Homo sapiens: one gene and its partners. The protein of the gene in region 3 purifies or fractionates together with the protein of the main gene of each other region. This does not show direct contact. Each region holds a gene or a part of one and is shown on either strand. Other genes may lie near its edges. The genes, in order: SOX5, DDI2 and ZNF7.

The links.
Region 1: the proteins of ZNF7 (region 3) and SOX5 purify together in Homo sapiens (affinity purification with mass spectrometry; one large-scale study listed by BioGRID and IntAct). This does not show direct contact.
Region 2: the proteins of ZNF7 (region 3) and DDI2 purify together in Homo sapiens (co-immunoprecipitation; one large-scale study listed by IntAct). This does not show direct contact.

The regions. Positions count from the first base shown.
Region 1 is NC_000012.12:23,544,111-23,547,763, forward strand, and holds part of SOX5 (transcription factor SOX-5), read right to left. Parts: intron 2,315-3,653; coding exon 2,206-2,314; intron 1-2,205.
Region 2 is NC_000001.11:15,651,864-15,655,516, reverse strand, and holds part of DDI2 (protein DDI1 homolog 2), read right to left. Parts: coding exon 3,622-3,653; intron 1-3,621. UniProt on the Homo sapiens protein: Aspartic protease that mediates the cleavage of NFE2L1/NRF1 at 'Leu-104', thereby promoting release of NFE2L1/NRF1 from the endoplasmic reticulum membrane.
Region 3 is NC_000008.11:144,837,407-144,840,915, reverse strand, and holds part of ZNF7 (zinc finger protein 7), read right to left. Parts: coding exon 3,409-3,509; intron 2,939-3,408; exon of another isoform or gene 1-2,938.

The DNA of each region.
Region 1 (3,653 bases), on a different chromosome or scaffold from region 3:
TCCTTTGAATTTTCCCCCTAATATTTAAAGTTATCCAAAGAGTCCCATGGACAGTCACATTTCAATCAGTAAGATTCACAGATGATAAAACACAATTCAAGAGTTAACAACGATAGCTTTGGAAGCTGCATTCACTCCTCCAGCCTTATGTGACCCCTTAGAATGGCTTCAGCAGATTAAATTGCTTCCAAGATACTTGAGTTTAGGCAAAGAGAAAATAAGGAGAACCAGTAGAACTCTGACAGTAGGTTTTCACTGGGTATTATCACAAAATAAGTAGATGTATTTTGATAGTATCCAAAACTTTAAAAATACTTTGGGGACTTGTAGAGACTGTATTATCAACAAAAGCACTGCTTTTCTTTTCTTGCTTTGTATTCATTCCTCATCTTTTCTTTATTTTTAAATTTGGAGACACAGGAATCAAACAAAATTGCCCAAACTTGAAGACCTCTATAGCAGCACATTCAAAACATAGCATACCTGTTGGTGAAGTTTCTCAATATTTTTCATTAATAACATGCTCTTTGATTTAATGAAAAGTAGAAAATATTTCACATACAAGCATGATTGAATTTAGGTAATGACAGCAACAAAAACTTTGATGTGTTAATGCTGATTACTGTGGGTATATTTTATCATGCTAATACAACTTAAAATTTATGAAATGTGTTATTACCCGTAATTGTCTTTTATTGACAAAATAAGTGCAAATATATGGCAACATCTTCCTAAAATGGGTTTGTAACTAGCAAGTGATCATTTGCACATCTGCCTTTTCTTGTTCTTACACCTTACAGCAACATAAGCAATAAAATGAACATTATGTGTCTTCATCAAATCTAAACAAGCTCTTTAAATGTACATAGGCTAGGTTTATCTTAGCTAAGTGGAGCTGAAAATAGAAGAAAATGTTTGCAACATTAGACCCAGAAAAATGCAAATTGAATCCAATTGAGTAAAATTCAGTTTTGATAGAATTACGTGTTTCAACGTTCAGGTTTGTTTAGTCCCTTGATTAGTATAGACCTGGTCTTAAAAGTAGAATTGGCCCAAGGCACAGAGTAAACAGTTGTGTATATTGGAGGATTCAAGGGGACCCCCTCTCAAAGTATGCATCTCACTGGTTTGCCTTTGTGCACTCTTCTCTATATGCAGGGAACTTCCCTGTAGTAGTAACAAAGTTGAGGGCGGTACTGCCAAAGGAATGCTTAAAATGCATGGATGCCACCTGACAGTAGAGAGATGTTCCCGGTCAGGGTATTGTATAAGAAGAACAGCACTTCCTTCTTTTTCCCTCTTTGCTACGCTATTAAAAATCAGAGTATCAATTTAATTTCTTCTCACTGTGGATGTTTAGAATGTTCAGAGATGATACAGAAAACAGAAGTCTGAAGGCCTATGAGAAGGGAGCATAAAGCTGTGCAGCTGGTTTCTAGTTAGGTTATAGAGAGTGGGCCCGACACTTGACTATGTAGTACATAGCACTAGGGAGAAGGGTTCCAAAATGTAAGAAACTATCGTGGAAATGTCCTCTGAGCCATGTATTCTGGTGAGGGCTTGACAAATAGAAACTTAAAAAATGAGCCAATAGAAACAAATTTCTGAAAAAGTTCATTTTGGGTACAAGAAATAGGGAAGTGAGGCCGCATGCAGTAACTCACGCCTATAAAACTAGCACTTTGGGAGGCTGAGGTGGGAGGATCACTTGAGCCCAGGAGTTTGAGACCAGCCTGGACACCATAGTAAGTAAGTCCTCATCTCAAAAAAAAAAAACAAAATTGCTGGGCATGTTGGCATGCACCTATAATCCCAGCTACTTGGGAGGCTAAAGTGGGAGGATCACTTGAGCCTGGGAAGCTAAGCATTTTGAGCATTTGCTTTAGAATCATGCCATCTCGAATTTAATTCTTGCCTCTGACACTTAGAGCCCTGTGACCTGGGGAAAATGCTTCAAAACTCCTGAGGCTCAGGCTCTTTCTCTGCAATGGGACTTATCCTAGGTTGACTAGGAATTAAATGAGACGATTTCTGCAAAGCACTCAGCAGAGTGCTTGGCACATGGGGACTGCTCAGTATATGTGACCTCTTATTGTAATGATGAGGTATGAGGTGGCTGTCTAGTCTATTTTTTAGCAGTTTTAATTGGCACTACCTAGACACTTTCTTGCATTATTAGAATATGTATGAACAATTTTCACAAACCATCAGAATCTCCACTCAGATTGAAATCCATCATTGCATGGCTAAATTTTCCTTCTTCATTCTGTTTAACTGCCAGTTGCTGAGTCAGACTCTCCAGTGTTGTTTTTTCCTTTAAAAAAATTATAATGAGAGATCAGTCTAGGAATTAAAATTATTTGAAGACTTTCTTTTTTTGGGCCACATATATAATACATTAACTCCTGGAAAGGATGCAATGTTGATATATTCACCTTTTTACGTTCAGCACATTAACCTGAAGTCATTAAGGGGATGATCAGCACGATTTTTGAAGGAACTCTGATTCTCATAGACCCCTATAAAGTCTTGGCGTTTGGGTTTGGTATGCCTAAGGGATATATGCCGGGATCCTTGGAGACAACCTTCCCAAATTACAAAATGTGCACAGAAATTTCATGGAAGCAACCTGTTTTACATTTGGAATGTCTGCTTTATTTTTGGCCAGACAGTAGAAGTATAGGAGTGGCGTGAAGCCCAGAGAAAGTCTTCCAATAGTCAGGTGACCAAATAATAGAAACATAATTCACAGTAGTGCCCTCTGGTTGCCATCTTCCCAAATGCCATCTGCATTCCTCATGCAAGGGTAATGAAGACGTTTAAATATTCATTGCTAATTGCTTGTCAAGTCTCTGTACATCCAATGTGAGTGCCTGCTACTTGGACCACAATTTGATTTGGATTGCTAAGCCAAAATATTGAGTTGGCGAATTATTTGAGATACAAATATACCAAAATTAGATCTACAGAGACATCAAGTTGTTTAAGCATGCAGTGCACGATTCACATTCATGGAGAACATAGCATTTCAAAATAAATTATTTTTAAGAAAAATATAATGCTTAATCTAAACCATATGAGACATTACTGTCAAATTAAGAAACTGGGTGACTTTAGGAACAGAAAAAGCATATAATGAAACTTGATAACTTTCTCGTGAACTCTCCAGCACTGCTCTGAGGATGATGTAGTACCAAACAGCACCAAAACAGTTTTAAGAAATGCATCCATTGGATCTCATAACATTATCTCAAGTTTCTTTATAATTATTCACCTCATTTTCTGAGGAACATAGTCATGAATCATACTAGTGAACGACATACACTGCAGAACTGCTATTGACACAATAAAATGTTCACAGAAAGTAATCAATGATGTAAGATAATTGTATTACAGGTAAAGGGCCCAACTAATGTTCCCACCAAGAACTAATGAGATATTGAAATTCTTAACACAGTACATGCTTTATCTCAATGAAGTCTCTGACAATGTGACAACTGTACATACTAAATTAAAAAATCTCTTAAGTCAGTGGCCTTGGAACTCCTGTACTCTATTCATCAAATTATGTACATTATTTAATAGAAAACTATTTTTAAATTGTCAATCAGTATAAAATACAGTAGAGAAACTGGAGACAAAATAGTTTATAT
Region 2 (3,653 bases), on a different chromosome or scaffold from region 3:
GCCTCCCAAAGTGTTGGGATTACAGGCGTGAGTCACTGCGCCCAGCCGTGGTTTTTTTTTTTAGAAACAAGTGTTTTGCCATGCTGCCCAGGCTGGTCTCAAATCCATAGGTTCAAGTGATCTCCCCACCTCAGCCTCCCAAAGTGTTGGGACCACAGGCATGAGCCACCATGCTTGGCCAGAAAGAAGTTGTTAACAAAATACTTTCACCTACTATGTCCAGAGTATTTATTCGGATGATATTAGGAAGTCGATGTTCTAAATAAAAAGGACCTGATATGTAGAATTATTTCATTACTTAAACATTACAAAAATTAGCACAAGCTATACTACCAGCAACAAAAGGTTATTTAGGTAAAAAGCCATTTCTTTTTAATTCTTTGAAGTTGGTACATCCCCTTCACTAAGCCTGGAAACATATGTGTATCTGTTTTAATCTTCCAAACTTTTACTAAAATAAGGTAATTACCAAAAAAGGATAACTGTTATTAGTAGGTTAGAAAACACTGCTATTATCAGCTAATGTTTCTTAAATAATGGCACCAAGACTGTGGAGGTTAAAAGGAAAAAAAAAAAAAAGACATTTCATAAAATGATAATATATCCTCATATTAACACACAGCATCACGACTAAGATGATAAATTACACCCCAAATGCAAAACCTTGTAAGGAGCTATGTCAAATTCATTCAAGCTTACCTTGCAGGTAAGATTAAAACTATTAAGTTAGTCTCTGTCTGGTTGTTCAAAATTCCTCCCTTCCTACAAAATACTTAAGTTACAACCAAAACTGTAGTTAATATAAAAACTTGAGCCAAAAAGTGATGGGAGTCAATTCTGTTGTTTTTTTTTTTTTTTTGGACACAGGATCTCACTCTGTCACCCAGGCTGGATTGCAGTGGCAGCGATGATGGCTCACAGCAGCCTTGACCTCCTGGGCTTAGGTGATCCTCCCATCTCAGCCTCTCAAACAGCTGAGACCATAGGCGCGCCACCATGGCTGGCTAATTTTTTTTTTAAATTTCTTGTAGAAACAAAGACTCACTATGTTGCCCAGGCTGGTTTCAAATTCCCAGGCTCAAGTGGTCGTCCTGCCTTGGCCTACCAAAGTACTGGGATCACAGGCATAAGCCACCACGCCCTGACTCAAACTGTACTTTATACATAAAACTAAGCCAAAAGGTGATGGAGTTGATTCTGAACAAAGTCAACCTGGAAAACTCCATCTGCCACCCACACCCATTCTAAAGCTCAATGACAGACATCTGAATGTTCTCCAGTAAAACAGTGGCAAAAGCTGCCTGGCTGTTTTTAAAACTCTTACCACTTTCGTCTTTAGGATAAAGCTATTCCCTGAACTTGTAACTCTTAATAATTTACTGTACTAGAAAAAGCAATGTGTGATACTAGTCATACTGATGAATAATGCCAGCACAAGACTGTAAAATAACCCAAACTCAAAAGTAAATTCTATTCAGCTTCTAGAAAATACATCCCAGAGTCACCGTTCTATAATAAATGGGGGATTTCAGCAAAACTGTTACCCCATTTTACCTAGAAAACTTAGCTCCATCATTACATTTAAACAAGCTAAATAACTGAGACTTAGAAAAAAGTATTAGGTAGCATGATTTCAATATATACAGTGCTAATATGGCCTGATGACAATACTGTAATCTCACACCATAACACTGCATTTTCAGTAACGTTCAATTATGCTGGTCAGGCATGGTGTCTCGTTCCTATAATCCTGTCATTTTGAGAGGCTGAGGCGGGTGGATTGCTTGAGCCCAGGAGTTCAAGACCAGCCTGGGCAACATGGCAAAACCTCATCTTTACAAAAAATACAGAAATTAGCTGGACATGGTAGCAGGCACCTGTAGTCATAGCTAGTCAGGAAGGGGAGATGGGAGGATCAGTCTGGGTGACAGAGTAAGACCTTGTCTCAAAAAAAAATTTTTTTTTTAATTAAGTAAATAAAAATTTATACTTCTTTTTGTTGGTTCTTCTGTCTTCGGTGAAGTTAGGGCTGCTCACACACAGTAGCAATGATACTTTTCAAAATAAACCAGGCCTAAGAGGCATGGTGGCTCATGCCTGTAATACTTTGGGAGGCGGAGGCGAGAGGATCTGCTTGAGCCTGTGAGACTGAGACTGAGGCTGCAGTGAGCCATGGCTGCGCCACTGCACTCCAGCATGGGCAGCAGAGCAAGACTCTGTCTATATAAATAAAATAAAATAAAATAAATAAAATAAAATAAAACAGTCCTAAGAAAAGGAAAGAAATAGGGAAATACTGTTGGACTCAAAAGTTAACATCTGCTTACTGTCAAAATTTTCTTTAGGAAAATCACAAAAACAAAAACATCCAAAAAAAACTTCCTAAAAAAATTTAGGAAGCTTCTAAAATGTGTCTAAGCAAAATAACCCCAATCTATCTTAAACACAGCAATGGACTGAGCTGTTCTTAATCTGTTGAAATACTAAAAAACAGAATGTTTCTCTTTTTTATGAGATAGTGTCTCACTCTGTTGCCCAGGCTAGAGTGCAGTGGTGCCATCTTGACTCACTGCAACCTCCGCCTCCCAAGTTCAAGCAATTCTCCTGCCTCAGCCTCCCAAGTAACTGGGGTTACGGGGGGTGTGCCACTGCACCCTGCTAATTTTTTTTTAATTTTTATTATTATTTTTTTTTGAGATGGAGTCTCGCTCTCTTACCCAGGCTGGAGTGCAGTGGTGCGATCTCAGCTCACTGCAAGCTCCGCCCCCTGGGTTTATGTCATTCTCCTGCCTCAGCCTCCTGAGTAGCTGGGAATACAGGCGCCTACCACTACGCCCGGCTAATTTTTTGTATATTTAGTAGAGACGGGGTTTCACCGTGTTAGCCAGGATGGTCTCCATCTCCTGACCTCGTGATCCACCTGCCTCAGCCTCCCAAAGTGCTGGGATTACAGGCGTGAGCCACCGCGCCTGGCCAATTTTTATATTTTTAGTAGAGATGGGGTTTCACCATGACCAGGCTGGTCTCAAACTCCTGACCTCAGGTGATCCGCCCCCCCCCCCCCCCCTCCGGAGCCTCCCAAAGTGCTGGGATTAACAGGCGTGAGCCACCACGCCGGGCCAGAATACAGACTTTTTCATTATTGTATTAAGAGATGGGGTTTGGATATGGTAGCTCACACCTGTAATCCCAGCACTTCGGGAGGCCAAGGCAGGAGGACTGCTTGAGCCCAGGAGTTGGAGATAGGCCTGGACAACACAGCAAGACCCTATCTCTGCTAAAAATAAAAAATTAGCCAGGTGTAGTCCCAGCTACTCAGGAGGCTGAGGTGAGAGGACTGCTTGAGCCCAGGAAGTCAAGGGTGCAGTGAACTACAATCATGTCACACTGCACACTGCACTCCAACCTGGGTGACAGAGTGAGACAATGTCTCCAAAAAAAAAAAAAAAAAAAAAAAAGGAAGATCAAAGAAGGAGGTTAAGAAGACAAATAATGAACACATCTACTACTGGACCATGAGACTAATTAAAAACTGGAAAGGTTCCTACCCCTTCTGAAGCCCACACTTCCCGGGCTTACCCATCAATAACAAGTATTGAAGAGTTTGGCCATCCCAAATACCTGCATCCTCTGCTGATTTTTGAAGGGCTTCT
Region 3 (3,509 bases):
AACAAGGCTGGAAGAGCTGCCAAGGGACTTACTACGTGAGCTCAGAAGAGCACTGGGCACCTAGGCCGTTCATGGCTACTCCCTGGGGTGGGCTTCTCTGAGCAGGACCCAGCCCCCTCAGCTGCCTCCTGGCTGCTGCTGCCAACTTGCACCTGGCCACCTCCCCTGCTTCTCCCTGGGCTGTGCGTGGCCACCTCTAAGACCACACTGACTTCTTCCCTGGGGCTGCAAGTTTCTGGAGGCCCCCAGGAGGCCTTCCAGACATCTGCGTTCCTTCTGGACTCTCCAAGTAAGCACAGGCTTCTGTCCTACTCTGTAACCCTAGAGGGCACCTCTGCTGAGGTCAGACATCTCCTTGATGTCTGTGATCAAACCATGACAGGATGCAACCACAACACACGGCTATGATCATGACAACCACGGTCCCCACCACGACACAATCACGTTCACAACCACAACCACGCAGCCACAGCTATAACCAGCCCGAGTCTACCCCACATGAATGCACAGCCCAGTTACAGGGCTTCAAGCTTCGGTTCCTGCCCACTCCTAACCATTGGTGGTGAGTCTCCGGCTTCCAGGGATCTCCAAAGGTCTTCCTATCAGTCCTGGAGAATCAGAGCAGGAAGCCCTTTCAACCTCATTGTGTAGCAGGGATGCTCAAGGCCTGTGAGGACAGGAGGCATCTCCAGGCCTGGTCCTCATGTGCTGCTTTCCCTGCACAACCACACCACCTCAGCATGCCTGCTCTTTCAACAGGGCTTGCTTGACACTCCTCCCAAGCCTTCCCCTGCTGTGAAGATAAGAGAGCAGGGTGGCCAGGTGCAGTGGCTCACGCCTGTAATCCCGGCTACTTGGGAGGCTGAGGCACAAGAATCACTTGAACCTGGCAGGCAGAGGTTGCAGTGAGCCAAGATCATGCCACTGCACTCCAGCCTGGGCAACAAAGACTCCATCTCAAAAAATAAAAAAATAAAGAGCAGCGGCAGAGAGAGCAGGGCCAAGCTGACAGCAAGGCTTTGTTGGGGGATGCCAGGAACCACCCAGCAGGGGGCACGGTGGTGGTCAAAAGCGTGGGGGTGCACAGCTGGGACCTGGCCGCTCCTCCACTGCTCTGGGCCAATATCTTTCAGTATCTGATGCTGACTGTACCAGCTGGGGACAAGTAACATATCTGGGCATTTCTGCCTTGCTTCATGTATTCTGGTTTTGTGCTGCTGCATGTTTTATCTAAGAGGCTACATCCCTGCCCCGGACTCTCAGGTCTGCGAGCAAGTGCTGGGTCCATCAACAGCAGCTCTCACCTACTGTGGGATTCTATTTTTTTGTTGTTGCTTTATCACAGTGAGGACCACCTGCTACATATAAACCCACTGAACTATTTCTGCCAACTGTAGCTGGCTTTTCTGCCATGGCACCCTCTTTAAACGCTCCTGTCCATGTTGGAGACATTTTAATGGGCGGCTGGGTTTTAACTGGGCCACCTTATAGCTGAACCTCCTTCTCAGGGAGACTGAGCAGAAAGGATCACATGGGAGTAGCCAGCAGAGCCAGTGAGGCCAGGGTTCCTGACCACTCTTCCCACACATCACATGCAGACTTCCTGGGCGGCTGCAAGGCCCACAGGGCGTGAAGAGGCTCAGAAACCCTCCTTGTCCTTTGAAGCTGCCTAGGGGCATATGAATGGAAGTAAGGTCACAGCCCCTAGGCGCATATGAATGGAAGTAAGGTCACAGCCCCTAGGCGCATATGAATGGAAGTAAGGTCACAGCCCCTAGGCGCATATGAATGGAAGTAAGGTCACAGCCCCTAGGCGCATATGAATGGAAGTAAGGTCACAGCCCCTAGGCGCATATGAATGGAAGTAAGGTCACAGCCCCTAGGCGCATATGAATGGAAGTAAGGTCACAGCCCCTAGGCGCATATGAATGGAAGTAAGATCACAGCCCCTGCTTTTTTTTTTTTTTTTTTTTTGAGACGTCATCTCGCTCTGTCGCCCAGGCTGGAGTGCAGTAGCGCAATCTCGGCTCACTGCAAGCTCTGCCTCCTGGGCTCACACCATTCTCCTGCCTCGGCCTCCCGAGTAGCTGGGACTACAGGCGCCTGCCACCACGCCTGGTTAATTTTTTGTATTTTTAGTAGACACAGGGTTTCACCGTGTTGGCCAGGATGGTCTCGATCTCCTGACCTCGTGATCCGCCCACCTCGGCCTCCCAAATCGCTAGAATGGCCGGCGTGAGCCACCATGCCCGGCTCCACGGCCCCTACTTTTCACAACTTTGGACTGTCCAACTTGCTTCCCGAGGCCCCTACAAGCCGGTGGCCTCTGTAGGACCTGGTCCTGCCCTGCTGCAGGAGTGACGGTGATGACCCAGCAGCAACTGAAAGGGAGGTGAGGGGCTTCCTTTCTGCAGCTGAGATGCACGCAGACCCATCTCCCTTGTCATGCTGGGCAGCACACCGGCTAAGCAGGGGAGCAGAGCACCAGGCCGGGCGCCTGCCCAGCAGGAGCTGATGCCGGAGGCAGTGGGTGCCCTGGTTAGGGCTGAGGACCCCAAGATAGGCTGAAGTCCTAACTTGAAGCACCTCAGAATGTGACCTTGTTTGGAAACACAGTCGTTGCAGATTAATTAGTCACCATGAGGTCACTGGGGTGGCCCCTAACCCACCATGACTGGTGTCCTTCTAAGGAGATGGCCACATGAACACAGACACGCAGGGAGAAGGCAGCCGTGTGAAGGAGTCGGAGATCAGAGTGAGGGACGCATCCACAAGCCAAGGAACCCAAGGACTGCCAGAAAACCACCAGCTGCCCGGAGAGGCAGGACAGGATCCTTCCCTAAAGCCTTCACAGGGGGGCACGGCCCTGCTTGCTGACCCCCCGGTTTCAGATTTCCGGCCTCCACAGCTGTGAGACAATAAATTTCTGTTGTTTTAAGCTTCCTAGTCTGTGGTTCATTGTTATGGCAGCCACAGGAAAGTAATGCACTCCTGGAGCCTGAGAGGGTCTGAAGGGAGCTGCCTCAGGGAATATGCTTACCCGAGGAGAGGTTACTGAATGCCAAACCTAACCCTTCACTTGGATCCATAGGTTTGTATCTTTGCTTAACGAAAGTATGAGTAAAATTAAAAATAGAACAAAATGTGACATGATTCAAAAACAAGCTCCGTTTTTGTGGAAATGCATGGGTTTTTGTGTCTTGGCTCTTCTGCAGTTTGGCCTCTCCCAAGGCAGCCCCACAACGGGTCTATGCTCCCTTCTAGGTGCTGGATGCTGCTTCCCCAGTAGCATTCCCAGGCATCCCAGTGTAGCCCCCGCGACTCACCCACAGCTACCCACAGTTGTGAGGCCCCTCCTGCAGTTTCTCCTCACCCCAGGGCTTCTCTGCGATGGGATCTAAGCCTCACCTGTCTTGGAGGTCCTTGGTGCCTCTGTCCCCTCTGCTCCCTGCAGGTCGAGGACCCATGGCTCTTCTCCCTGCTCCAGCCGAGAGATCAGCTCAGGCTTG